Linked DNA regions of Homo sapiens. The protein of the gene in region 2 interacts with the protein of the main gene of each other region in a pairwise test. Each region holds a gene or a part of one and is shown on either strand. Other genes may lie near its edges. The genes, in order: ZNF80, VMAC, TFAP4 and ZNF326.

The links.
Region 1: the proteins of VMAC (region 2) and ZNF80 interact in binary tests that used the Homo sapiens proteins (3 or more experiments, as listed by UniProt).
Region 3: the proteins of VMAC (region 2) and TFAP4 interact in binary tests that used the Homo sapiens proteins (3 or more experiments, as listed by UniProt).
Region 4: the proteins of VMAC (region 2) and ZNF326 interact in binary tests that used the Homo sapiens proteins (3 or more experiments, as listed by UniProt).

What each region holds. Positions count from the first base shown.
Region 1 is NC_000003.12:114,234,556-114,241,988, reverse strand, and holds ZNF80 (zinc finger protein 80), read left to right. Parts: upstream 1-4,410; 5' UTR 4,411-4,914; coding exon 4,915-5,736; 3' UTR 5,737-7,358; downstream 7,359-7,433. UniProt on the Homo sapiens protein: May be involved in transcriptional regulation.
Region 2 is NC_000019.10:5,901,056-5,907,889, reverse strand, and holds the start of VMAC (vimentin-type intermediate filament-associated coiled-coil protein), read right to left. Parts: upstream 3,019-6,834; 5' UTR 3,000-3,018; coding exon 2,809-2,999; intron 1-2,808. Other genes in the region: NDUFA11 (NADH dehydrogenase [ubiquinone] 1 alpha subcomplex subunit 11), read left to right, coding at 4,182-4,278.
Region 3 is NC_000016.10:4,256,686-4,263,050, forward strand, and holds the end of TFAP4 (transcription factor AP-4), read right to left. Parts: intron 6,017-6,365; coding exon 5,851-6,016; intron 5,738-5,850; coding exon 5,639-5,737; intron 5,265-5,638; coding exon 5,094-5,264; intron 3,911-5,093; coding exon 3,770-3,910; intron 3,561-3,769; coding exon 3,405-3,560; intron 1,565-3,404; coding exon 1,370-1,564; 3' UTR 501-1,369; downstream 1-500.
Region 4 is NC_000001.11:90,012,091-90,019,117, reverse strand, and holds part of ZNF326 (DBIRD complex subunit ZNF326), read right to left. Parts: intron 5,993-7,027; coding exon 5,881-5,992; intron 1,802-5,880; coding exon 1,654-1,801; intron 434-1,653; coding exon 334-433; intron 1-333. UniProt on the Homo sapiens protein: Core component of the DBIRD complex, a multiprotein complex that acts at the interface between core mRNP particles and RNA polymerase II (RNAPII) and integrates transcript elongation with the regulation of alternative splicing: the DBIRD complex affects local transcript elongation rates and alternative splicing of a large set of exons embedded in (A + T)-rich DNA regions.

The DNA.
Region 1 (7,433 bases), on a different chromosome or scaffold from region 2:
AAGTATGTATATCTTCTGGAAATGTGACACTATGTTCTAAGGGGCTATACTATTGGAGTCATAGGGTAAGGCCACAATTGTGTGAATGAAGGTGGATTCTCTACTGAAGGAAGAAGATAATATACTGATTAGGCATCTTTGTAAAATATGGAAACAGAAAATGGGGAATACAGGCCTGGATTGGGGTTAGTTCCTCTGTCTGGACTTTGACTTCGGCCTAGACACTGTGGAATTGAGGCATGTGTGAGATGTTTCTGGGTGGTAGAGAAAAACTGGCCTCTTCCTAAAATGGTGGTGAAGAGAATGGGCTCTGAGCAGAAGGGAGCTGTATGGAGGCCAGCTGAATGGACTGGGAACTGAGGACTCCAAGAACAGCCCTATCTAGTAGCCAGTTGTTATTCTTTATATGAACGTCCCTCTGTGATCCCCAGCCCTAAGAAAAGTCTTGTTAAAGCCACAGTTTGGTCTAACACTAGAGAGTTTATGTTCATGCCTGGATTACAGTGATAAGGGGAAGTCCATGGGTGTGTCCAAGGACCAAAAATTGCAGGTGAGAGTCTATAGTCACATTGGTTAAGTCATCCACAGGATTCCTTGTGAGAAACCCCCTGAGAATTTCCAGAGAGCAGACTCTGGGCATTGTTACTGATATGATCTAATTCGTACCAACTTTTTGCTGAGATAGTCACATTACTTACAAGCTTTGCTACTGACAGCTCAAATGAGAGAAATTTTTTTTATCATTTTTAGGAGCTGTTTTATATCATTAAAACCATATGCTGAAAGACAAATTCATTAAAGAAAAAAATAGACATTTCCAAGAAATAAAACTAATGCATTTTGTAACCGCCCACATGATCATGGTTAGATTGCATGTATTTAGTGATCAGCTTTCTTTAACTCTTTTTTTTTTCTCAAGACAGAGTCTTGCTCTGTTGCCCAGGCTGGAGTGCAGTGGCACCATCTTAGCTCACTGCAACCTCCGACTCCCAGATTCAAGTAATTCTCCTGCCTCACCCTCTTGAATAGCTGGGATTACAGGCACGTACCACCACGCCCAGCTAATTTTTGTATTTTTAGGAGAGATTGGGTTTCGCCATGTTGGCCAGGCTGGTCTCAAACTCCTGACCTTGTGAACCGCCTGCCTTGGCCTCCCAAAGTGCTAGAATTACAGGCCTGAGCCACCGCGCCCAGCTCTTTAACTCTTAAAAATAAGCACAACAGAGACCAGGAATGACACTTTGAGAACCACTGCTGGAGAGAACTTCACCATCAAATGTGCAGCGTCCTAAGAATGATGAAGGCACTGTCCCTGGCAAGACAGTTCAGAACCGATTCAGAAGAGCTCATGCATAGCAGCCTAAGTCATTGCCATCCACTATTGCCTCCCATCTTGGGGAGACTCTTGCTGTCTGGATAACACAGCTGAGCCTTCTGCCTTGTATTGTGACTGTACTGATTTGTTCCAAATACTTTGGGTGAGAAAACTCTGTTGGATTTTTCAGTTAGCATGTCTGCCTGCTCTTTTATTTCTCTGACCCCAATATTTATATCTTATAAAACTAATCAAGCTGGTGATACCAGTAAAATTTCACACTACACACATTCTTAATTATGAAACATTAGAAGAATTTTTTTTAATCAGCAAAATGAAAATGGCATTTGATAGCACCTCTTCTTTTCAATATAGTAGATAGAGGTTCTGGCCAGCACAGAAGAAAGAAAAATAAAACAAAGTATAAGTATTTGCTAAAAGTCAACGTGCCAGGCCACCTCACTGGGAGAACTGCAATATCAGCGTCTTTGGGTCTCTCCTCTTGAGCTGATTAGATTCTGAGAGAGGAACATTCCAAACAGCTGCTATGACGAGCAAAGAGGGGTGGAGTGAGGGGTCCATATGTCAGTGACCATCAGTTCTCTTCTTCAGTATTCGCCAGAACTGTCCAATTTGCTTCTCATTCCCTGGTTCCAAGATCCTCTCTTCACTTTAAAAACCAGCTGCATTTTGGGAAGGGGAGGGCAGTGGATCAGGGTCTTGCTCAAAGCTCAAGCCACTGCCACCAATCTCCATATGATGGCTTCCACTCCTCACCAGCTCCAGAGCGATTTGGTGCTGTTACACCCTTCATTTTTGAGGATTCTGCAACATAAACTGTGATGCTTCCCTGGCTCCCCTGGGAGAAGTACTGGACGGCAGCAGTCCCAGGCGGCTGAACAATGTTGTATTCTGTGTAGCGGCCATCCTCTTTCCTGAACTCTCTCCAGGTGTTTGCTAATGTGAGCATTCTGGAACACATTTCCTGGTACATGTGGGAAAGCTTTGTTTTGGAAAGACCTTTAGGACATAGGACCAAACTTTTCCAAAGTGATTTTACTAATTACAGAACCATCCACAACATAAAAGAGATCCTGAATTTCCATGTCTTCTCCACACTGAGTATTTTGACTGGATTGACTTTAATGGCCAGCCCCTTGGTACAGTTTATCGTGGGGTCAGCGGGTAAAATTAAGTGATAAGTGGGACACACTCTCTCCACGCCCTGCATGAACAGGTTCCTTACATGTATGTTCTTATGTGCACGTTTGTGCGCAAGCTTGCAGGTCGCCCCGACCCAACCGGCATCAACTTCCATTTAGAATAATTGAGGGTTAAATTCCCAGGAATTAAAAAATGAAACTGAGGCCTCTGAGACTTGTAGTTCGGCTGGCGGAGGCTGCACGCGGCTCTCTGGTATCTGTAGTCGGAAGTACTCTCTGCATATGCGGATGCAGGTGCCGCGTGGCTTTTGTCTTGCTCCATTGCAGCGACATCCGAGGCAGTGGTGCAGGACATGTCCATGATCTTAACCTGGAAGAAGTGGGAGCAGCTGGACCAGCCCCAGAGGACCCCGTACTGGGAGGTGACACCAGAGACCTGCAGACCACTCGTCACGGGGGCATGCAAACCACAGTTGACCTACTAGCTGAAGCAGTGATAAAAGAGCAGAAAATACCTTTGCTAAAGCTGCTGTCCAGGTGACAAAGTAAAAGCCAAAGCCAGCCAGCCTTGTCCTAGGGAGCCTTGCTCCTGGAAAGACTAACTCAGGGAGCCAGAAGTTCCTCCAGGTTGAGGTGAGTGAGGGAAAGAGTGGTTGTGAGAGGTGACAGCGTGCTGGCAGTCCTCACAGCCCTCGCTCGCTCTCGGCGCCTCCTCTGCCTGGGCTCCCACTTTGGCGGCACTTGAGGAGCCCTTCAGCCCACTGCTGCACTGTGGGAGCCCCTTTCTGGGCTGGCCAAGGCCGGAGCCGGCTCCCTCAGCTTGCAGGGAGGTGTGGAGGGAGAGGAAAGAGCGGGAACCCGGGCTGCACGCGGCACTTGCGGGCCAGTTGGAGTTCAGAGTGGGCATGGGCTTGGCGGGCCCCACACTCGGAGCAGCCGGCCGGCCCTGCCGGCCCCAGGCAATGAGGGGCTTAGCACCCGGGCCAGCGGCTGCGGAGGGTGTACTGGGTCCCCCAGCAGTGCCAGCCCACCGGCGCTGCACTCGATTTCTTGCTGGGCCTTAGCTGCCTTCCCGTGGGGCAGGGCTCGGGACCTGCAGCCCGCCATGCCTGAGCCTCCCACCCCCTCCGTGGGCTCCTGTACGGCCCGATCCTCCCCGATGAGCGCCGCCCCCTGCTCCACGGCACCCAGTCCCATCGACCACCCAAGGGCTGAGGAGTGCGGGTGCATGGCGCAGGACTGGCAGGCAGCTCCACCTGCAGCCCCGGTGCGGGATCCACTGGGTGAAGCCAGCTGGGCTTCTGAGTCTGGTGGGGACATGGAGAACCTTTATGTGTAGCTCAGGGATTGTAAATACACCAATCAGCACCCTGTGTCTAGCTCAGGGTTTGTGAATGCACCAATGGACACTCTGTACCTAGCTACTCTGGTGGGGCCTTGGAGAACCTTTATGTCTAGCTCAGGGATTGTAAATACACTGATCAGCACTCTGTATCTAGCTCAAGGTTTGTAAACACACCAATCAGCACCCTGTGTCTAGCTCAGGGTTTGTGAATGCACCAATCTACACTCTGTATCTAGCTACTCTGGTGGGGCCTTGGAGAACCTTTATGTCTAGCTCAGGGATTGTAAATACACCAATCGGCACTCTGTATCTAGCTCAAGGTTTGTAAACACACCAATCAGCACCCTGTGTCTAGCTCAGGGTTTGTGAATGCACCAATGGACACTCTGTATCTAGCTACTCTGGTGGGGACTTAGAGAACCTTTATGTCCACACTCTGTGTCTAGCTAATCTAGTGGGGACGTGGAGAACCTTTGTGTCTAGCTCAGGAATTGTAAACACACCAATCAGCGCCCTGTCAAAACAGACCAGGCCTCTACCAATCAGCAGGATGTGGGTGGGGCCAGATAAGAGAATGAAAGCAGGCTGCCGGAGCCAGCAGTGGCAACCCGCTGGGGTCCCTTTCCACACTGTGGAAGCTTTGTTCTTTCGCTCTTTGCAATAAATCTTGCTACTTCTCACTCTTTGGGTCCACACTGCTTTTACCAGCTGTAACACTCACCGCAAACGTCTGCAGCTTCACTCCTGAAGCCAGCGAGACCACGAGCCCACCGGGAGGAACGAACAACTCCAGACGCGCCGCCTTAAGCCTTAAGAGCTGTAACACTCACCACGAAGGTCTGCAGCTTCACTCCTGAGCCAGCGAGACCACGAACCCGCCAGAAGGAAGAAACTCCGAACACATCCGAACATCAGAAGGAACAAACTCTAGACGCGCCACCTTAAGAGCTGTAACACTCACCACAAGGGTCCGCGGCTTCATTCTTGAAGTCAGTGAGACCAAGAACCCACCAATTCCGGACACAGTTGGAAATGCAGAAGGGCACTTGAGTTTGGCTGCAGTCTCCCACACGGAGACCTTCTGGAGGAAGATGAGCCCTAAACGCGATGGGTTGGGGACAGGTGATGGTCTGCACTCACAGGTTTTACAGGAGCAGGTCTCCACAGGAGACAATCTCCATGAATGTGACTCCCAGGGACCAAGTAAAGACACTTTGGTTCGTGAGGGGAAGACCTACAAATGCAAGGAATGTGGGAGCGTGTTTAACAAAAACAGCCTCCTTGTTCGACATCAGCAGATTCACACTGGGGTGAAGCCTTATGAATGCCAGGAGTGTGGAAAAGCCTTTCCTGAAAAGGTCGACTTCGTTCGACCCATGAGGATTCACACAGGGGAGAAGCCCTGTAAGTGCGTGGAGTGCGGGAAGGTCTTCAACCGCAGGTCGCACCTCCTGTGCTACCGCCAGATTCACACTGGAGAGAAGCCCTATGAGTGCAGCGAGTGTGGAAAGACCTTCAGCTATCACTCTGTCTTCATCCAGCATCGTGTGACCCACACTGGAGAAAAACTCTTTGGGTGCAAAGAATGTGGAAAAACCTTTTACTACAACTCTTCCTTAACCCGGCACATGAAGATTCACACTGGAGAGAAGCCCTGCAAGTGCAGTGAGTGCGGGAAGACCTTCACCTACCGCTCTGTTTTCTTCCGACATAGTATGACCCACACTGCAGGAAAGCCCTACGAGTGCAAAGAATGTGGGAAAGGTTTTTACTACAGCTATTCCCTCACTCGACATACAAGGAGTCACACTGGAGAGAAACCTTATGAGTGCCTTGAACATAGAAAGGACTTTGGCTACCACTCTGCTTTTGCCCAACAGAGTAAGATCCACTCTGGAGGAAAAAACCTTTGAGTGCAAATGATGTGGGAATTTGTGGGTTTTCTTTTTTTTTTTTTCTTTGATACATAGAGAGCCACACTGAGGAGAAGCACTCTGAATTCAGTGGCAGTAGGAAAGCTGTGACCTGCAGCTCATCCTCACTTGGCATTGAAGAATTCCTTCCAGAGATAAACTCTATGAGATATGTGGGAAGGCCTTTTGCAAGTGGGCCCACATCAGTCAACGTCAGAGAACTTAAACTGCGAAAAGACATTTTGACAAAAACTAGTGAAGAAAATCTTTTGGCCACAGGAAATATCTTCCTCAGCATCTGAGAATTTTTCCAGGAGGGAGACCTGTTGGTTATTGTGCACTTAAAAGAACCACCCACACCTCTCTCCATAGTTTATATCACTAAGCCACTTCAGGATTTTTTTTTTTTAAGTAAGAAGGGAACTGTAAAAGAGAAAAAAAGAAATTCATGCATAGCTTCTGTCAGACTTCTCTGAAAGCCATGCCTATCAAAATTTGAATTCAGTTCTTCATTTTGCAGATGGCTGAAAGGTACAAAGGCCTTGCCTCGTTATTTGTCCTTTATATGTATTCACTCCTGTCTACAGGAGAATTGTCCTCTGTAAAGATTAACTCTGTAAAGATTTATTGAATGCATTCTTTGTTCTAAAACATTGTACTCCTGAGGAATGTAAGTCTTTGTGAGAAATATGAACGCTTAAGTAATGGAATATGTGAAACTTGTAAGAACGTAGAATATAAAAATACTGCCATATAAAATCCTTTCATATCTGAGGAGGTAAGTAACCACATTGAATGGGCATATTTTGCTACATCATTTAAGACTACTTAAGGCTTTAATTTAACAAAAAACAATTCTTCATGTGGTTTTGAACACCCAGTGCTCAATATACTTGTTTGTTTTGATTTATTTTCTCAGGGACGAGAGAATGATGGTGAAGCTGTGTTGCTTTCCCAGGTGAGCCTTGATTATTTCCTCTGTGCTTTCTCAGCTTCTTTGGCCTTCTGTAAGAGGGGCTTCTCCAAGAGCATGTCACTAGTTTTCTAGAAGTTAAACAAGAGCTAAGACAAACAAAACAAAACACAGCTTATCTAATCTAATGAGAAACTCAGAAAAAAATGTTTTGATGAATACAATGTATTAAAATATAAAACATGTAGATCCTTTGACATGTTAATTCAATTCTAGAAATCCTCAGAAATGTTTTTATATTATGCAGAGATGTGCGTGCAAAGAATAATCGCTGCAGTTTTGTTTTTATGTGTGAAACGTTGAGAACAATCTAAATGTTTATCAGTTGGAAGTAAGTTATGGTACATCTGTTCTATGAAATACTGTGAAACAATAAGGTATCTCTGTATGTACTGATATCAAAACATCTCTAAGATACAGTATTTAGTAAAAGAGAAAGTTTCAGGAAATAAAACTACATCTAGAAGTATAAGCATAAAACTGTTAATAGTGGTTTTCTGCAGGAAATGGGATGGACCAGGGTTATATGCAATGTTCAGTTTTTACTTTTATACTTAAGTATTGTTTATGTTTGAAAAATAAAAAGCATTTATTGTTTTTGCAATAAATGTTTAAAATATTTCAATAAAGATAGCATGTTAGAATAAAAGTGACTTCTATTATTTCTTAAAAAGCGTACATTTTACAGGGTGTTTTTTTTTAAGTCCTGGTCTTATTATGCCTT
Region 2 (6,834 bases):
ACAATCATGATGGAAGGAACCTCTTTATAGGGCAGCAGGAGAGACAGTGAGAGACCAGCAAAGGGGGAATCCCTTATAAAACCATCAGATCTCCCTTATTGATTGAGACGGAATCTAGCTCTGTCATCCAGGCTGGAGTGCAGTGGTGTGATCTCGGCTCACTGCAACCTCCGCCTCCCGAGTTCAAGCAATTCTGCCTCCTCAGCCTCCCCAGTAGCTGGGACTGCAGGCGTGTGCCACCATGCCCAGCTAATTTTTTTTTTTTTTTTTTTTTTTTTTAGTAGAGACAGGGTTTCACCATGTTGGCCAGGCTGGTCTCAAATTCTTGACCTCAGGTGATCTGACCGCTTCGGCCTCCCAAAGTGCTGAGAGTATAGGCGTGAGCCATTGCGCCCAGCCATCAGATCTCATGAGAACTCACTCACTATCATGAGAATAGCATGAAGGGGAAACCATCCCCCATGATTCATTTACCTCCCACCAGTTCCTTCCACACCACGTGGGCATTATGGGATTACAATTCAAGCTGACATTTGGGTGGAAACACAAAGTCTAACCATAGCAGAAGGGTATTTAGAGATGGAGCTTTTTGGAGGTGATTAGGGTTAGATGAGGTTGTCAGGGTGGGGGTCTCTATGATGGGATTAGTGTGCTTATATGAAGAGATACAAAAGAACTCCCTGGCTCTCTCTGCCCTGTGAGGACACAGAGAGAAGCCAGAAATCTGCAAGCCCGGAAGAGGGCCCTCCCATAACCTGACCATGCTGGCACCCTGCTCTCGGACGTCCAGCCTCCAGAACGCTGAGAAACAAACCTCTTGTTTAAGCCACTTAATTTATGGCATTTTGTTTTTTTGTTTGTTTGAGACAGAGTCTCTCTCTGTTGCCCAGGCTGGAGTGCAGTGGCACAATTTCGGCTCACTGCAACTTCCGCCTCCTGGGTTCAAGCGATTCTCGTGCCTCAACCTCCCGAGTAGCTGGGACTACAGGCGTGTGCCACCACACCCAGCTAATTTTTTTGTATTTTTAGTAGAGACAGGGTTTCGCCATGTTGGCCAGGCTGGTCTCGAACTCCTGACCTCAGGTGATCTGCCTGCCTCAGCCTTCCAAAGTGCTGGGATTACAGGCGTGAGCCACCACCCAGCCAGTTTATGGCATTTTCTTATGAGAACCCTCATTTCGTCCCCTCACTCTTCCTGCAGTTCGTTCCTTTCCATTATCTTTTCCCACCTATTCTTAGTAGGCTCTTCCTCTGGGAAGCCTTCACTCTGAGATCCCTCAGAGCCCCATATGCCCCTCCATCATGGCCGCTGGCCACCAATGATGTAACTGCCCAGTGACATGTCTGTCTCTCCACTGGACTGTGGATACCCAATGGGCAAGGCTAAGTCTTACTGATGTGCTCCAGTACTCAGCAGAATGCCTGACACACAGTAGGTGCTCAATGAAGACGAATGAATGAGTGCCTGGCACAGAGCAGGTGCTCGGTAAAAATGAATATGTCCAATTAGCTCTGAAGTAATAGTTCCCACCTGGGACCCAGCTCCTCCCACCTCCCTGGGTGCCTGTCTCATCTCTTTCATCCTCAGCTGTCAGAGGGACTCTTCAACAATGCTGATATGGGCCAGCATGGTGGCTCGTGCCTATAATCCCAGCACTTCGGGAGGCTGAGGCAGGAGGATCACTTGAGCCCAGGAGTTCAAGGCCAGCCTAGGCAACATAGTCTGACCCCATTTCTAAAGGATTTTTTTTTTTAAATCAGCCAGGTGTGCTGTCGCACGCCTGTAATCCCAGCTACTTGAGAGGCTGAGGAGGGAGGGTGAGACTGCAGTGAGTCGAGATCGCACCACTGCATTCCAGCCTGGGCAACAGAGCAAGACCCTCTCTCAAAAATAATAGATAGGCATGGTGGCTTAGCCTGTAATCCCAGCACTTTGGAAGGGTGAGGTGGGAGGACTGCTTGAGCCCAGGAGTTCAAGACCAAACTGGGCAACAGGGCAAAACTGTCTCTACAAAAAAATACAAAAAATAAGCCATGCGTGGTGGTGGACGCCTGTAGTCCCAGCTGCTTGGGAGACTGAGGTGGGAGAATCACCTGAGCTCCGGAGGTCGAGGTGCACTCCAGCCTGGGCATAGGAGTGAGGCCCTGCCTCAAAAATAATAAATTTAGGCCGGGTGCGGTGGCTCACCCCTGTAATCCCAGCACTTTTAGGAGGCTGAGGCGGGCGGATCACCTGAGGTCAGGAGTTAGAGACCAGCCTGCACAACGTGACGAAAACCAGTCTCTACTAGAAATACAAAAAATCGACCGGGCGTGGTGGCGGGCGCCTGTAATCCCAGCTACACGGGAGGCTGAGGCAGGAGAATCGCTTGAATCTGGGAGGTGGAGGTTGCAGTGAGCTGAGATCACGCCACTGCACTCCAGCCTAGGCGACAAGAGCGAAACTCCGTCTCAAAAAAATAATAATAAATTTTAAAAGTTAAAATGCTGATATGATCCCCTCCTCCCCTGCTGAAGAGCCTGCTATGGCTCCCAATGCCTACGCTGGGCGGTCTGTGGTCCCTGCGTCGCTCAGCACCTGTGGGAAAGTGGGCCTGTTTGAAGTTAGAGGTCCACACCTGTGTCACTTCTCGCAACTTTACATACTGATTACTAATTCGAGTTTTTTGGTGTTTTTATCAATCCGATACTCAGTCTAGCGTCTATACAAGTGCACACGGTTCCCCCTGCCCTTCCTCGCTTTCCAGCCTCGGCTCTGCCTCCGCCTACCGCCTCGGTGAAGTCCACCTGGCCGGCCCCGGGCCTCACCGGTCCTTGGCGCGACCCAGTTCGTCTAGGGCGGCGCGCAGCTGCTGGTCGTGGAGGGCCAGGCGCTCGGCTTGGGCGTGCACCGTGCGCTCCGCCGCGTCCAGCCGCGCCTCCAGCTCCGCTGCGCGCCGGTGCACGGCTGCCAGGTGTGCGTTTGCCTCCCGGATCTGCAGGGCCGGCGGCGCCGACATGGCCCAGGCTGCTGTACAGGCCCGGCCACGCCCCCAGGCGGCCCGGAACTGGCACAGGCCCCGCCCCCGGGAGGGCCCCGCCCCACTAGACCTCGGCGCGATTGGTCGCTGACCCCGCTAGACCCCACCCCAGAGGGCTGGGTCGTGCTCTCCTCAAACCCAAACACTACCACCGGTTCCGGGATCATGAAACTCCGCCCCTGAGTTTGGGCTCACTCTAGGATTGGACAAGATCTTGACAGCCACGCCCCCAGGCTGGCCACATCCTTTGGCGGCTCGCGCAACTCAGGCTCTGGAAACAAGATTGGTCACACCTTCGATACTGTCCCCTCCCTACTTGGAAGCTAACACCAGGATTGGCCCGGACTCCGCGAAACAGCAAGCCTGACCACGCCCCCCGAACCTGTGGCCTGTCAGGGGTAGATCCAGGCACGGCCTCGCCCCTTCATCCCTTATACAGTCTCAGATTGGTCAAGTCCCTTTTAGGTTATGCCTCCAATTCTAGCCACGCCCCCAAGTCAAGCGCCTGTGTACTTCATCCGGCCTAGGGCGTGGGACAGCCGCGGGGTGAACAGAGGCCACGTCCCGCTGAGCTTCTCGTATTGTCATTGGTCACTTTCCCGATAATCCCCGCCCCTGATCCTGTCCACGGCCCAAAACAGTAGCACGCTGCTCAGACTCCAGCTTGGTGACTGACCACAGGGCATGACCACTCGCTATGCAGATTCTGACACTGGGTGTGGCCACATCCCCGCCATGCCCCGCCCCCCAGTCATTGTTTCGTCATGTCTTGCTCCTATCAACTGGAGTCCCGCCCGTCCCAGTCTGAGCCCGGCCCCTCCCCTAGTAGATAGTCCCCGCCTCTAGTAGTCCCTAACCTAGGACTCCCTGAGCTGGGACTAGCGAAATCTGTCTGCACTGATCGCAGTCGTCCTCAGTTTCACCCTCTAGGAATCGGCCTGGGGATGCACGTGCTACTCTCTTCCTCCAGGCCGGTCCCCGGCGCGTGCGCGCGATCCATGTCCATGTCCGCGCCTATCAATAAAGTTGCTCACTTGTTGCCGGCCCGCTAGCCCGAAAGGTTGCGCGCGCAGCCCGAGAAGTCTCGCGATAGCCAGCCGCGGCTGCCCTTGCGCTTCCCGAGCTGGCGGGGTCCGTGGTGCGGGATCGAGATTGCGGGCTATGGCGCCGAAGGTTTTTCGTCAGTACTGGGATATCCCCGATGGCACCGATTGCCACCGCAAAGCCTACAGCACCACCAGTATTGCCAGCGTCGCTGGTGAGCGCCGGCCGGGCCCCGAGGGTGGAGGGCCGAGGCCGCAGGGAGGTCGTGGGGTTACTGGGGGCTGTTTGGATCGAACGGGTCTGGGAGTCTCGCGGGTACGCACGTGGTTGTCATCGGGGTGTCTTGGGCGGTCGTAGGGGGGGATCTTGTGTGAAATGGATGTTGGTAGGGGGTCCAGCAGGGTTGGGGAGCACTGGGAGGTCGTGACATGCGACAAGCTAGTCCCTGGGGTCATCTGAGGCGGTCCCAAGCTATCGCCAGGCTCGGGGAAATTGTGGAGTGAGACAGGGCTATTATCAGGTCCAAGGAGCTAAGGGACCACGAGACTTTCCAACGGGGTAGAGATTGTTAGAGGGGATCATGAGTCATGATTGGGGCATCTGAGGGCGGTACAGATGTTTGAGAAAGTTTTGGGGTGGGATGAGGTCTTTCTGTGGTCAGGGGGTGCTGGGTGGTTAGGGACACCTGAAGCTTTTACTGGGACCGCCAGAGAGGTCCTAGGTGAGGTGGATCAGGAGCTACTATGAGGGTAGCCTTGCAGGGGAATGAAGGGGACCCGCAAGCCCTGGCATTCTCCTTTTTTTTTTTTTTTTTTGAGACAGAGCCTTGCTCTGTCGCCCGGGCTGGACTGCAGTGGCGAGATCTCGGCTCACTGCAACCTTCACGTCCCTGGTTCGAGCAATTCCCTTGCCTCAGCCTCCCAAGTAGCTGGGATTACGGGCTCACGCCACCGCGCCTGGCTAATTATTTTGTATTTTTAGTAGAGACGGGGTTTCACCGTGTTGGCCAGACTGATCTGGAACTCCTGGTCTCAGGCCATCCGCCCATCTCGGGCTCCCAAAGTGCTGGGATTACAGGCGTGAGCCACCATGCCCGGCCGGCCCTGGCATTCTCTTATAGAGTAAATCTGAGTCTTGCCCCTTCCAGCCTGAGCGTTTCATGGGCATCATGCCCTTTAATTCTCAGCCACAGGTTGGGACTCATCAGGTCCCAGATGGAGCTGGAAGTCCTCTTCCCTCTGATGAAGAATCTTTACAAACTGGGCCAGGCGCGGTGGCTCACACCTGTAATCCGGCGCTCAGGAGGCCAAAGTGGGAGGATCGCTTGAGGCCAGGAGTTCCAGACCAGCCTGGGCAAAATAGCAAGATCCCCATCTCTGCAAAAAAGTAAAACAATTAGCTGGGCATGATGGTGCGTACCTGTAGTCCCAGCTACTCAGGAGGCTGAGACAAGAGGATCACTTGAAACCAGGAGTTCAAGGCTCTAGTGAGCTATGTTTGCACCACTGCACCCCAGCCTGGGCGACAGAGCGAGACCTTGTCTCAAAAAATAAAAATAATAGGCCGGGCATGGTGGCTCACACCTGTAATCCCAGCACTTTGGGAGGCGGATCATGAGGTCAGGAGATTGAGACCATCCTGGCTAACACGGTGAAACCCCGTCTCTACTAAAAATACAAAAAATCAGCCAGGCATGATGGCGGGTGCCTGTAGTCCCAGCTACTTGGGAGGCTGAGGCAGGAGAATGGCGTGAATCCAGGAGGCAGAGGTTGCAGTGAGCCGAGATTGTGCCACTGCACTCCAGCCTGGGCGACAGAGTGAGACGCTGTCTCAAAAAACAAAACAAAACAAAACCAGCCGGGCGCGGTGGCTCACGCCTGTAGTCCCAGCACTTTGGGAGGCCGAGGCAGGTGGATCACGAGGTCAGGAGATCGAGACCATCCTGGCTAACACGGTGAAAACCCGTCTCTACTAAAAATACAAAAAAAATTAGCCGGGCGTGGTGGTGGACACCTGTAGTCCCAGATACTCAGGAGGCTGAGGAAGGAGAATGGCGTGAACCTGGGAGGCGGAGCTTGCAGTGAGCCGAGATTGCGCCTCTGCACTCCAGCCTGGGCGACAGAGCAAGACTCCGTCTCAAAAAGAAAAAAAAAAAAAAACCCAAAGAAACAGTCTTTACAACCTGGTGTGTCTATAAGCTGAGGAATCAATTTGGTCAACTCTGTATTTCCAGCATATGTGAAACAGGGCCCGGCCAAAGTTGCGGCTCCATTGGGAGGCATTTGAATTAGGGCAGACCTAATCATCACTCCCATATTTTGCATATTTATTAATAGTAAGACAGACGTTATTGTGTCTCCATTTCTTACAGGTAGGGACTGAAGGTTGGAGAAGCATATTAACTGCTCCAGGGTCATTTGAAGCTGGGCTGCAAGTCCAGGTCGGCTGACCTGCTCCTAGGGGTCTCTGAAGCAAGGAATGTTCCCATCAGGTCCTTATCGAGGGTCTTCAAGAGAAAGGGCTGAAGGGGGCCACCCAGGGGATAGGATCTGAAACTGAGAAAGACGCGTATGTTGGTGTTCATGTGAGAGAGTGTGTGCATTCCTCATGTGTGAATACAAAATGAGTGGGCTGCGGTCTCAGGAGGCCTTTGGAGGAGACAGCTTGTCTCGGGGTGTGGTGCTGCTGAGTGAAGGGCCTCTGAGACCGGGGGTGCTCCCCAGAGGGTCTTAGAAGGGGAGGTCAGAACTTTTGACAGAGTTGCCATGTC
Region 3 (6,365 bases), on a different chromosome or scaffold from region 2:
CTGGCAGACCAATTCCAGGATCTTAGCACTTAAACACCACACCACGGGGGGGCAGGGGGGTGCTGGGGGGGTGCGGTTGGAGGGGGTGGGGTTCCCCTCCTAGGGGAGGAGAGGATGAGGCTCAGAGAAGTTACAGAAGCCCAGGAAGTGGCAAAACCTAGGGATTAACCAAAGCGTAGGGACCAAGCAGGGCCCCTGAACACCTGTGTCCTTTCCCAGGTTTTCGGAATCGGTGGCTTGGTTGTCCTTCTCTCCTTGCCGCCCACCAAAGAGCCACTCCCCAGCCTCAACACCATCTTCCATCTTTACAGAATACCCAGGGTCATCCCAGGGAAACTGAGGACCCCAATTTTTCATCGCAACACCACACACAAGCTGAGGGAGTAACTGTGCTCACACACACCCAGTCCGCTTTGGGGGGCCCAAGGAGCCCCCCTACTCTAGATGGGGTAGCCCTGCCCTGGTCTTCAGGCCAGCCCACACCCAGGAGACTCAGAATCTAAAAAACAAAGTACAAACTTTATTTTGTTTCTTTACAAAGGCACGGTGGCCTCTTGGTTTTTTTCTCCCCACTTTCTTAACAAAATATAATAGCTTCTCCTTGAACACGAAGACCTCAAAATTGTAAAAAAAAAAAAAAAAGAAAGAAAAAAAAGAAAAACAAAACAAAAACAGAAAGCAAACCAAAAAGAAATAAAAAACCAACAACAAACAAAACAAAAAGAGAGAGACAGACATTTTTGGGGTGGAAGATGAGACCTGGAGGCAGAGGTGGGGGCTGGGGGGTGGGAGAGTGGCGAATTCTAGTGCCGAGATGGGGAAGGGGGAGGGGGGCACAGCAGCAGCAAACCCCAACCAAGAAGCAACGGAGACCTCCGGGCCCCCAGAATGCCCCAGCCTAGTCTTACCCCCAACCATGTAAGTGCTTAAAGGAGAAAGAAGAAAACCCAAAAAGAGGAAGGAAAGGGGATTGAAGGCTGACAATCCCAGGCTGGCTCTGGGCAGGGAAGAAATAACCTGGGGTTTTGTTTAATTTTCCCTGTTCTTAAAAAACATATTTAAAGGAAAAAATGCTTTTTGGCAGAGAGAGGCCAGGCATCTCCGTGTCAGCTTCCTCCAGCCCCCGGGGCCGAGGCCCCGCCCTGGGGTGCCGATGCTCCCACACGCTCTGCGACACCCCAGCCCCGGGACCTCGGGTTGAGTGGCTTCGTTCAAAGGTCGATTTACAGTATTGAAAAAGAGGTCATAAAAGAGACCCAAATGACATCGTAATTTTGTAAAAATTTCTCACTCATTCGCCCATGTCTCTCCCTGTGGCTGCCCCGGCTCCCTCCAGCCCCCAGAAGGGAGAGGAGGGCTGGGGGGGTAGTCAGGGAAGCTCCCCGTCCCCCGACGGCTCCTCCCGGCTCTGGTCCATGGCGTCACTGTCTGAGGCCTCGGAGTCGGAGGCGGTGTCAGAGGTGGGGGCCTCCGGGCAGCTGCGGACAGGCTTCACGATGACAGCTCGCCGCTGCTCCTCCTCCAGCTCCTGCTTTTCCTGGGTGCCCTCGATGTGCTGGATTGCCTGGACAGGGACGAACCACTGAGAAGGCTCGGCCGGGGATACATGGCCAGCCAGGAGACAGTGGGGGCTCTCAGCCAGCCACTGTCACCCCCAAAACACATAGCCCAGAAAAAAGCCTGGCAAAGCAGCAGGGGAGGCCCGCTAGAGTACAGGAAAAACAAACTCCTTTTACTTTTTTTTTGGAGACAAGCTCTCGCTATATCACCCAGGCTAGAGTGCAGTGGCATGATCATAGCTTACTGCAGTCAGACTCCTGGGCTCCAGCGATCCTCCTACTGCTCCCTCCCTAGTAGCTGGAACCACAGGGGTGCGCCACCATCCCCAGCTAACTTCTGTATTTTTGGTAGAGACGAGGGGGTTCTTGCTATGTTGCCCAAGCTGATCTCGAACTCCTGACCTCAGGCAATCTTCCTGCCTCAACCTCCAAAAGTCCCGGGATTACAGGCATAAGCCACCACGCCTGACCCAGGAACAAACTTTCAAAACCCCTCTGTTAAGTTGAAAAATCCATTCTGGGAAGATGACAGTCCCAGTGCTGCTTAGAAATTATATTATATGTATCAGCCAGGCGCAGTGGCTCACGCCTGTAATCCCAACACTTTGGGAGGCCAAGACGGGAGGATCACCTGACGTCAGGAGTTCGAGACCAGCCCCTCAACAGAGGCCAGAAGCCTACTAAAAATACAAAATTTGCCAGGCGTGGTGGCACATGCCTATAATCCCAGCTACTTGGGAGGCTGAGGCAGGAGAATCACTTGAACCTGGGAGGAGGAGGTTGCGATGAGCTGAGATAGCACCATTGCACTCCAGCCTGGGCAATAAGAGCGAAACTCTATCTCAAAAAAAAAGAAAAAAAAAGAAATAATATGGACCTTTCATATGTTTTTGTTTGTTTGTTTTTTGAGAAAGAGTCTCACCGTGTCACCCAGGCTGGAGTTCAGTGGTGCAATCTCAGCTCACTGCAACTTCCACCTCCCATGTTCAAGCGATTCTCCTGCCTCAGCCTCCCGAATAGCTGGGATTACAGGCGTGCACCACCACGTCAGGCTAATTTTTGTATTTTTAATAGAGATGGGGTTTTCACCATGTTGGCCAGGCTGGTCTCGAACTCCTGACCTCAAGTGATCCACCCACTTTGGCCTCCCAAAGTGCTGGGATTGCAGGTGTGAGCCACCACACCCGGCCATATGTTTATGTATTTTAAAGCTTGCCTATTAACTTATTAAAGGCGTTTGTTATTAATTGTATTACACAATTTGCAAAGTTTATGAGCAATTAAAATTCGAGGAGATTGATGGATTTTTTTTCCTGTTTTGGCTTTTTTGGTTATTTATTTATTATTTACTGATTTCTGATCTTGGGCTCCTCAAGGGGCCCTGTTCAAGGGTGAATGCAACTGTAACTTCAGGCTTGACCCACAAAGCTTCCTCCTCTGTAGGAGGCCCAACTATCACCAGCCCTGCCACCTGTATCTCCATCCAGGTCCTAGGAGATGGAGCTGAGACAATGTTCCGGACCAACCCAAGAGCTGGATGCAGGAACTCTGTAACCAGGGGGCTCTGGGAGCAAAGGACCCTCTCCGGAAACCCCATATTGAGGGAAGGGACAGTCTTCCTGGCCAACTCCTCCTACTGGCGTGGTAGGCCCTGCCCCGATCTCTGGCCCTCACATTCTCCACTTGCAGATCCAGGGACGGGGCCCCCCAAGGCTTCCAGCCCTCCACCCCTTCCCACACAAGCACCATCTTCCTCCGCTTCTGCCCCTCTTTTCCAGTCTCCCCTAAAGAGCCTGTTCCCGGAGTATGACCCCCACAAGCTGCCCCTTTCTCAAGCTCAGGTACCTGCACGATGGTGTCCAGATTTTGCCGGGATGTGGAAACAGAGTTGATGACCGAGGAGGGGCCCATGGTGACGACATTGATGTGGTGGGAGGGAGGAGGAGGCGGTGCTGGCACGATCACCGTGGGGTGGTGGGTGGGGGCCGGAGGGGGCAGAAGCTGCAAGACAGAGGCCCTCAGCCTTTCTCTCAAGGCTTCTCTTGGCCCATCCACCTCCCTTTCATGCAGAGCTGGCCAATGTATAACTGCCTCTGCCCCTTTATATTAAGAAGCAGAGAGGACGTGGCCTAGGGAGAGGCTTCCGCCATTCAAGATCACCTGTCCCCTTCCCGGTCCCCAGAGCCCACTCCCGGGCGCCTCCTGCTCACCTGGGTCCGCAGCTGCTGCTGTTCCCGCTCCAGCTTCTCCTGGTGCAGCAGCCTCACCTGTTCCTGCTGCTGCTGCAGCTGCACCTGCTGCGCAATCACCTTGAGCTTTTCCGGGTACATGTGGGCCTCCAGCGAGCGCACCTGGAGGCAGGACAACCTGGGCTCAGGGCCAAGGCCGGGAGCACACCCTGCCCTGTCAGTCTCACAGCAGCTCATTCACTCCTGCTGAAAACCCTAGCACAGGGCGGGCCCCTCTCAACAGAGGCCAGAAGCCTTTCCAGAGCCCTTCAGCCCCCGGCTCCTCTCGCCTCCCACCTCGGCCTCCACTGGACCATGCTCCCTCCTGCCCGAGTCTTTGCCTATGCTATTCCCTCTGCCGGGAACACCTTTCTCTGTCCTTTGGTTAACTATGAGACTCAACTTCCCACTTCCATGGAGATGCCGTGGGGCGTCCCTTGAAAAACCCCTCCTGATGCCACAGCTCCAGCCTGGCCTTCAATATGGTTTTTTGTTTTTGTTTTTTGGTTTTTTTGAGCCATGGTCTCCTTCTGTCACTCAGGCTGCAGTGTAGTGGCACAATCATGGCTCACTGCAGCCTCCACCTCCTGGGCTCAAGCAATCCTCCCAGCTCAGCCTCCTGAGTAACCGGGACTACAGGCACACCCCACCACACCTGGCTAATTTTTGTATCTTTTTTGGTAGAGACAGAGTCTCACTATGCTTCCCAGGCTGATCTCAAACTCCTGGGCTCAAGCGATCCTCCCACCTCAGCCCCGCAAAGTGCTGGGATTATAGGTGTGAGCCACCATACCCAGCCCATCACGGTTACATTTTTTTTTTTTTGAGATGGAGTCTCGCTCTGTCTCCCAGACTGGAGTGCAGTGGCACGATCTCGGCTCACTGCAAGCTCTGCCTCCCAGGTTCACGCCATTCTCCTGCCTCAGCCTCCCAAACAGCGGGGACTACAGGCACCCACCACCACGCCCGGCTAATTTTTTTTTTTTTTGTATTTTTAGTAGAGACGGGGTTTCACCGTGTTAGCCAGGATGGTATCGATCTGCTGACCTCAGGTGATCCACCCGCCTCGGCCTCCCACAGCATGGTTACATTTTTGAGATCCTTTGGCTAATCTCCCCCACCCCAACGCAGACGGTGGCCCCCAAGGGCAGAGACGTGTCTGGCTTGCTCCCCACTCCTAGGCCTGGCACCGCAGTAGGTGCTCCTGTAAATAGGGCTCCACCGAGGGCCGCAGAGCAAGAGGCGCGACCCCAGGCTCCACGCCCTCTGCACCGCGCGCCGTGCCCAGCAGAGGGCGCTGCCTCACCTGCTCCTCCAGCATCATGCGCACCGAGCGCTCCTTGTCCAGCTGCTGCCGCAGCTCAATCATCTCCCGCCGCAGGTCCTCCGCCTTCTCGTCCTCCCAGATGTCCGGGGAGCCTATGCCTTCGTCCTTGTCCTCTGCCCGCCGTCGCTTGGGGGACGAGCCGCTCAGCTCCTGGGGACCCCAAGGAGTCGGTCAGTGTGCCTGACACCTCGGTACCACCACGGAGATTGGGGTTCCATCGCAGCCCCCCAAAGCTGCCCAACACAGGTGAATCTTCATTAGGGAGCCCCTTCTGCAAGTCCAACAAACCAGCCAAATGCCAGGAGAATGGGCTGCTTTACATAACAGTCACCTGGCTCCTTCCAGAGCCCACTCCACCGCACTTGACCGATGGGGAAACTGAGGCCGGGGCAGGAAAAAAAGTGCCTGGAAGTACTTGTCAGTGGGCAAGAAGGGGCCTGCAGCCACACCTGAGTCCCAGGCCCATGGCTGGGTCCAAGGCATGCCCATGCCAGGGAGAGGGAGCCATGAAGGACAGGGCGCACCTGGATGAAGCGCTTGAGCTGTGTGTTCTGCTGCAAGAGCCTGGTCTTCTCCTGCTCCAGGGAGAAGATGTACTCGGCTGTCTGCTGGAGAATGGCTGCCTGAGGGCGTGGAAAAGCCGAGAGTCAGGCTGGCAGTGTTTACCAGAGCTCACTTTCCTCTCCCAGCGGGAACCTGCCGGCTCCTCCAGGAAGCCCTCCCTGCTCTCACCCACCTTGCTGAGCTTCTCTCCGTCTGTGTGGGGGATGAGGGTCTTGAGGGACTGGAATCCCGCGTTGATGCTCTGCATGCGTCTCCGCTCGTTGCTGTTGGCGATCTCCCGCCGAATCCGCCGCTCCTGGTCCCGCTGAGTCTCGGGGGTTAGTGGAATGTTGGCAAGGCTGCCAGAGAGGACAGGGACAGGCTCGGCCAAGGCGCCCTCTTCATCATTCATCTCCAGAGGGCCCCAGTGGAAACTGCATCCCTCCCCTGCTGCAAAAGATGCCAGGCCACCCCCAGAGAGTGATGGAGGGGTGCTCTCTGGGACACCGGGGCGGACTGAATCAGCTGGCTGCGGGTAAGATAGTCCGCTCAGAACCCACCCCGGGCCAGGCACAGTAATCCCAGTTCTTTGGGAGGTCAAGGCCAAGGATCATTGAGCCTAAGAGTTTGAGATCAGCCTAGGCAACGTAGTGAGACCCTGTCTCTACAAAAAAATAAAATTAGCCAGGTGTGGTGGTGCATGCCTGT
Region 4 (7,027 bases), on a different chromosome or scaffold from region 2:
AAAAGAGAAGGAAAGACTAAAAAACAGAAGATTTCATAACTTGAATTTTGGGAGAAGGAATAACAGAAACAGAGAACAGAGAGAAGTATCTTTCATCTAGAGGAAAAGGTAACTTTTCCTCTCAAACTGAAGTGAAGAAAGTAATGGCAGGTAATGATAAATTTGTAAGCATTAGAACAGGAAGACAAAGAAGTTCATTTCTGGTAACTCACTCAGAGCTACTGTATATATGACTGTACTATATCACTCTAGTGGCTATCATTTACATTTAAACAGGTTATGATATATAAAAATACATGTAGAATTTTAAAATAATTTGTTTTAAATACTTACCTTCCATAACATCTTTTTCAATTATTTTAACTACTTCTGTTTGATTATTTGTCTGTTGCTTACGAATAGATGTTTTCTTGAATTTATTCACCATACACTCCTAGAAAACAAAATAGAAAGAATCTAAATAGCTTTCAATGAGCACTCAAGTATAATGCTTAGCACTATGTTCATTCTATGGAAGATACAGTATCTGCTACATAAGAATTAACATCTTTTCTCAAGGAGTTTATAATTTAATTGAAAAGATAATCATAAAATATTAGGAACCTACAAAAATTATTCATTTTTCAAAGTATATTTTAAGCATATAGAGAAAGGGATCAAAGGGAGCTAGAATATTTAAGAGGTCTTCCAGAGTAGGTGGGTATTTAAGTTATAAAGGACACACAGAAACCCATTAAGGAAATAAATTACAGAAGATTGTTAATTAAGGGTCACAGTTCTATGAGAATTACAGTGGTCTGAAAGGTCACTTTTTTTTTTTTTTTTTGAGATGGAGTCTCGCTCTGTCACCCAGGCTGGAGTCCAGTGGTGCGATCTCTGCTCACTGCAACCTCTGCCTCCCGGGTTTAAGCAATTCTCCTGCCTCAGCCTCCCAAGTAGCTGGGATTACAGGCACGCGCCACCACGCCTGGCTAATTTTTATATTTTTAGTAAAGACGGGGTTTCACCATGTTGCTCAGGCTGGTCTTGAACCCCTGACCTCGTGATCCACCCGCTTCAGCCTCCCAAAGTGCTGTGATTACAGGCGTGAGCCACTGCGCCCGGCCTGATCATTGTATTTTTAACTTTCTAATAATTCCACCTCTTCTGTCCAAATTAATTGTACGTACAATCAACAGTCCAGCTCAAGCCCCTTCTTTAAGCATTCCTTAACATTCCCAACTGTCTTTCCCTTTGCTAAACTCCTACATTATTTCTGAATTCCTGGCATTGTCACTTAACAGTCATTTAACTGCTCTGAGCATAATCTTTCATGATAAAAATGAATTGTTACAGGGCTCAACTGAAATAACGAATGAATGTAACCAGCACAACTCCAGTTAATGGATGATAGCTGACTCCACATCAATACAGTTGTTAAAGGACACCTCCCGCAGAAACTGTGAAAAATGTAATAATTTCTGAAATAACAAATACAAATTCTATTATAGAGGAATTCACAAGTAATTCTGAGTTAATTTTAAAACAACTCTTTCTTTAAATAGTAAATTAAAATTTTAGAAACATAAATGTGAGAGATGGGGAGAGTGAAAAATGAAATCATAAGAAATTCATATCAATAAAATGCTTCTCACTTCAAAAACAGCTACTCACATGCAAAAACTCCATAACTACTTTATCAAATTTAGTTTGTTTCTGTATATGATCTAATGTTTCCTGATGTGAAGAACTTTCCAGATGCAGTTCAATATCTTTTTCTTCAAATGTTCGAAATTTACAAAATGAACATGTAAATGCCATTCTGTAAGAGAAAAAAAAGTTTTCCTTTAAATATTACTTTATTCAACTATAAAGAGTTCATAAGAATATAACATTGAAACTAATTTTACCAACATAAATGATTTCCTTTCTTCCTCTTTATGACTGAATTAAACTTAGCTTAAATCCAAAAAAAACAGTATTTAAGTACATATTTGGACAGTACCCATATACCACTTTGCATTTCTAGCCCACCTTGGAGCTTCCGGGTAGGAAAAATTGAATCAGGGGATCTATAAGTTATCCACTTCAAGCCTGGACCAATTAAAAAGGCAAAACAAACCTCAAGAAGTATCAAGTTCCAAAGTTCTGCAACTTATTTTACATGTTGTTCCATCCTCAAGCTTCTAAACCAATGGTAGTATCAATAAAGCAAGGTGGCACACCACCAGACAATCATAATTCACTCCTGTGGAATTCTTGGGTGATAAAAGTCTTGCCTTCTAAAGACTACTTCACTTAGGGATAACTAATAGGCCTGGACTGGACAAATGCATACATCTGTAAGCTCAAGAGCCACTCCATAATGAACAGTCCCACCTAATTGCTTCTTTTTTTCTTTTTCTTTTTCTTTTTTTTTTTTGAGATGGAGCCTCGCTCTGCTGCCCAGGCTGGAGTGCAGTGGTGCGATCTCAGCTCACTGCAACCTCCACCTCCCCAGTTCAAGCAATTCTCCCACATCAGCCTCCCAAGTACCTGGGACTACAGGCATGCGCCACCACACCTGGCTAATTTTTATATTTTTAGTAGAGACAGGGTTTTTGCCACCTTGGCCAGGCTGGTCTTGAACTCCTGACCTCAGGTGATCTGCCTGCCTCGGCCTCCCAAAGTGCTGGGATTACAAGTGTGAGCCACCGTGACCAGAATAACTGTTTCTATTTTACATTATTTTCTTTTCCTTGAATTATGCCAGCAGTCACATAACTGGTTTCTGTCTCCAGTCTCCATTTTCCAATTAATTCTTTGCAATGCTATTAGATTTATTTTCCTGGTTGAGAGTATGAGCTCTGGAGCCAACTGCTGAGTTCATATCCTAATTCCATTTTGTGATCTTGGGCAAGTTACTTGACTTGGTTTTCTGGGCCTTGGTTTTCTTACATTGAGATGAGAACGCTCACAGAGGTGTCTGAGGATTTTTAAAAATTAATGCAGACAAAGCCCTTAGAACATTTCCTAAAACACAATAATTATTCAATTAATTATTGCTACTTCCTATAGGAGGTAAGAGCACATTACTGCTCAAAGGGCTTCATTAGCTCCATAAGCTCCAAAAACAAAGACAAAAATGTTTTCAGCTGCCATCCAGGAAATTTCCTAATCTCTTCTTTTTGGCTTTACTCACCAATACCTTTAACATTATCTGGCACAGCATTTCTTCATTAAATGTTTAAATTAGATTATACCTTTCACCCATTAGAGTCACTTCAATCTACACTGCTTTCAATTTTCTAAATAACAATAACACATTCCTGTTTGCTTTGATGGCAAGCCATGGCCTCTACCTGGGCTGCCTCTCACAACTCCTCCTGTAACCCTACCATTCCCAGATCAATTCAAATACTACTTCCATCATTGCAGCCTCCCCTGATTTCCATGCACCCTTATTTATTTATTTTTTGAGACAGAGTCTTGCTCTGTTGCCCAGGCTATGGAGTGCAGTGGCGCGATCTCAACTCACTGCAACCTCCACCTCCCAAGCTCAAGCTATCCTCCTACCTCAGCCTCCCAAGTGGCTGGGACCACAGGCACGTGCCACCACACCTGGCTAATTTTTGTATTTTTTGTAGAAATGAGGTTTCACCATGTTGCCCAAGCTGGTTTTGAACTCCTAGGCTCAAGCAATCCGCCTGCCTTGGCCTCCCAAGGTACTGGAATTACAGGCATGAGCTACCATGCTTGGTCTCCTATACCCTTATTTAGAAGTTATATCTCATGAGACTACATTGTACTCCTGGTATCCTTCACCATACACTATTATTTATGTACATCTCTCACACATCCATCTCTTTCTCCCTAGGTTCCCTTAAGGGTAGATATAAACCTTTCCATGTGCTTTATTATGTGGGAAGCATTCAAATATCCAAGGGAAGGAACCTATCACAAGAATAGTGATTTACTCAATCTCGAATCCTCATAACTCAAAGTAAAACTGCTCTGATAAATGAAAATAACTTAGACTACTTTAAATAAATTATATCCTAAAATGATAATTTATGAGTTAACATTCTTTTGGTTATATCATCAGATTTATATTTAGAGTTACAGAGAAAATAGCTAAATGAAAGTTCAATTCTTTCATTTTCTCTATATCACAATTTTATATATTATATTAACATGAACATAATCCATATCTAAAATTTTTCATGAGAAAAGTACTCATAGGGCAATTAAATTTAAAAAATTGCATCTTATAATGTAAAATGATTTTTACACTCCAAGACGCTGATAATTTAAAGTCATTTCTACACCAAAATATTAACTATGCCTGTTACTTCTACCAAAAGAAGGAATCACAAGAGATAATGAATGGGACAGAGAACTCACAAGGACTAAAAATAGCAGTAGTTCTTGAAACTAGAACTACTCTTCTTTTTATGGATTGTTTTGTTTTGTTTAGAGATGAGGTCTTGCCACGTTGCCCAGGCTGGCCTCAAAATTCTGGGCTCAAGGCTTTAAGAAAAATTTAGACATTTTTAAAAAACTGCTAAATTGCTAATAGTTATAATATACTGTCACCAACAAATTTTAAGCGTCCTTTGACCATTCCTTAATTAGCAAATCAAATTTCTCCTTAGTAATAAAATGGCATACTATTATTTAAATTTTTAGTTTAATGAAATTACTGTTAAGTTTAAACAATTTCCTTAAAATTATTACTAGCTGTTTTTTGTTTCCTCATCATATTAAACAGCTTAGTTTTCTTACTTTTTAAAATAATTTGGGTGATGTTTTAATCTAACTTGGACATTAATCATTTCTCATGTTTATATTTTCCAAGTCTGTTTGCACTCCTTTCAAATTTTAAGTTTTTATTTAGCCAAATCTGCTCATAATTTCCTTTGTAATTTATTCTATAACTTTTAAGCCTGGGAAAAAAATCTCCTTGCAGAACATTTTGTTTTTCTGTAATTTCATTTTTTTTTTACTACATTCATTCCAGGTGTCATATGAGGAGGCTCTAAACTGATTTTTGTTGTTATTTCATTGTTCAACCAATTCCCCTCTTTTTTTTTTTGAGACAGAGTCTCGCTCTGTTGCCCAGGCTGGAGTGCAGTGGCTCAATCTCATCTCACTGCAAGCTCCGACTCCCGGGTTCACGCCATCGTCCCGCCTCAGCCTCCCGAGTAGCTGGGACTACAGGCACCCACCACACCTGGCTAATTTTTTTTTGTATTTTTTTAGTAGAGACGGGGTTTCACCGTGTTAGCCAGGATGGTCTTGATCTCCTGACCTCGTGATCTGCCCGCCTCGGCCTCCCAAAGTGCTGGGATTACAGGCATGAGCCACTGTGCCTAGCCCAATTCCCCTCTTATTTCTAATATCCTCTTTATTAAATATTACATTCTTCCTTACAGTCTGTTCACAGGCTAATCTGGTATAATAATTAGCTTTGTGTATTACCACATATTTTTAACTATTATAGCTTTTTAATGATTGATTATCTATAAAAGCCAGTACCTACTCATTTACTCTTCTTCAGAATTTCCTTTGGGATCTGGATTGGAAAGAACTTACATATTTGTAATATTTAATTCCTGCCCATGAAAATCACTATGACTCCATACAGTCAAATCTCAATGACAAGTGTTTCTTTTTAAGAATACTGTTATTTCTGAATATTTGATATCTTTTGGATTGCCAATATGAATAGAATGCCTTTTTTCTTATGTTTTCTAAGTAGTGATTACATATAAATATCAAAAACCAAAAGCATTCCTCTGTATCTTTGAACAAGTCTTTTCATTTGAATCTTAAGAACTTTTTAATATTACAATTGATGTGTTGGCTTTTTCTAGGAAATCATTTTTTAATGAACCTAATTTTCTGACTCTAAGTACAAACCTGTATCCATCTCCGTATTTCTCACTGTTTTTTTCTCTTCTGCGCCTTTGTTTCTCTCGCCGAGCCTCAATTCGCCGCTTTTCTTCCTCTTCATTTTTAGGATCAGTTTTTGCTAGGATATTACACAAAAAAGTAAAAGCTAAAATTCATTTTTCCATTCTCTCTTTCCAATCATCAGTTCGTAAAGTACATACTTATGAGGTATACTTAGTGATTGTAATCTAAAATTGAACTCACCAAAAAAATCGGAGTTTGAGACTATCCAGTATTTCTGAAACTTCACTAAATGAACTTCATTCATTTGAATACCATCATCATGAATTCTGTCATATCTGCTTGTCATCTATGTGATTATTTGCTACATATTTTTCTTTAAATGTGCTCATTTGTCCTATCCTTATTCTAAGCAATAATATCCTTATCACCTAAAATCATCTTGGGCATCACATACTTTGGGAAAAACACTAAAGTAACCTGACCGAGCATGAAAATGGAAGTCCAGTAAACACTGCAGAGCCCTGGATGCAAGAACTCATGTTCATATTGTAGGAGCTCTCAGAAAGTTTCTTAAAATTTGTAACCTCCAAAATAAAAGCAAATTTGTTCTCTTTTTTAAAAAATATTCTCTATTGTGATAAAATACACAAAACATAAGATTTACTAGTTTAACCATTTTAAAATGTGCAATTCAATGGCATTAAGTACATTCACAAAGTTACGCAACCATCTCCACTATCTAGTTACAGAACTGTTCATCATCCCATAAAGCAGTCACTCCCCATTTCAACCCTACCCTAAGGCCCTGGTAACCACTAATCTGCTTTCTGATCTACGGATTTGCCTATTCTAAGTATTTCATATACCTAGAATCATCCTGTCTGTTGCCTTTTTGGTCTGACTTTTATTTAGCATGTTTTCACAGTTCACCCATGTTGTACCATGTATTAGTAAGTACTTCCTTTTTTATGGTTTAATAATATTCCATTGTATGAATAACCCACATTTTTTAAACCATTCTTCTGTTGATGTATATTTCAATTGTTTCTACCTTTTGGCAATTATGAATAATGCTACTATAAACATTCATATATAAATTTTTGTTTGGACCAGGCACAGTGGCTCATGCCTGTAATCTTAGCACTTTGGA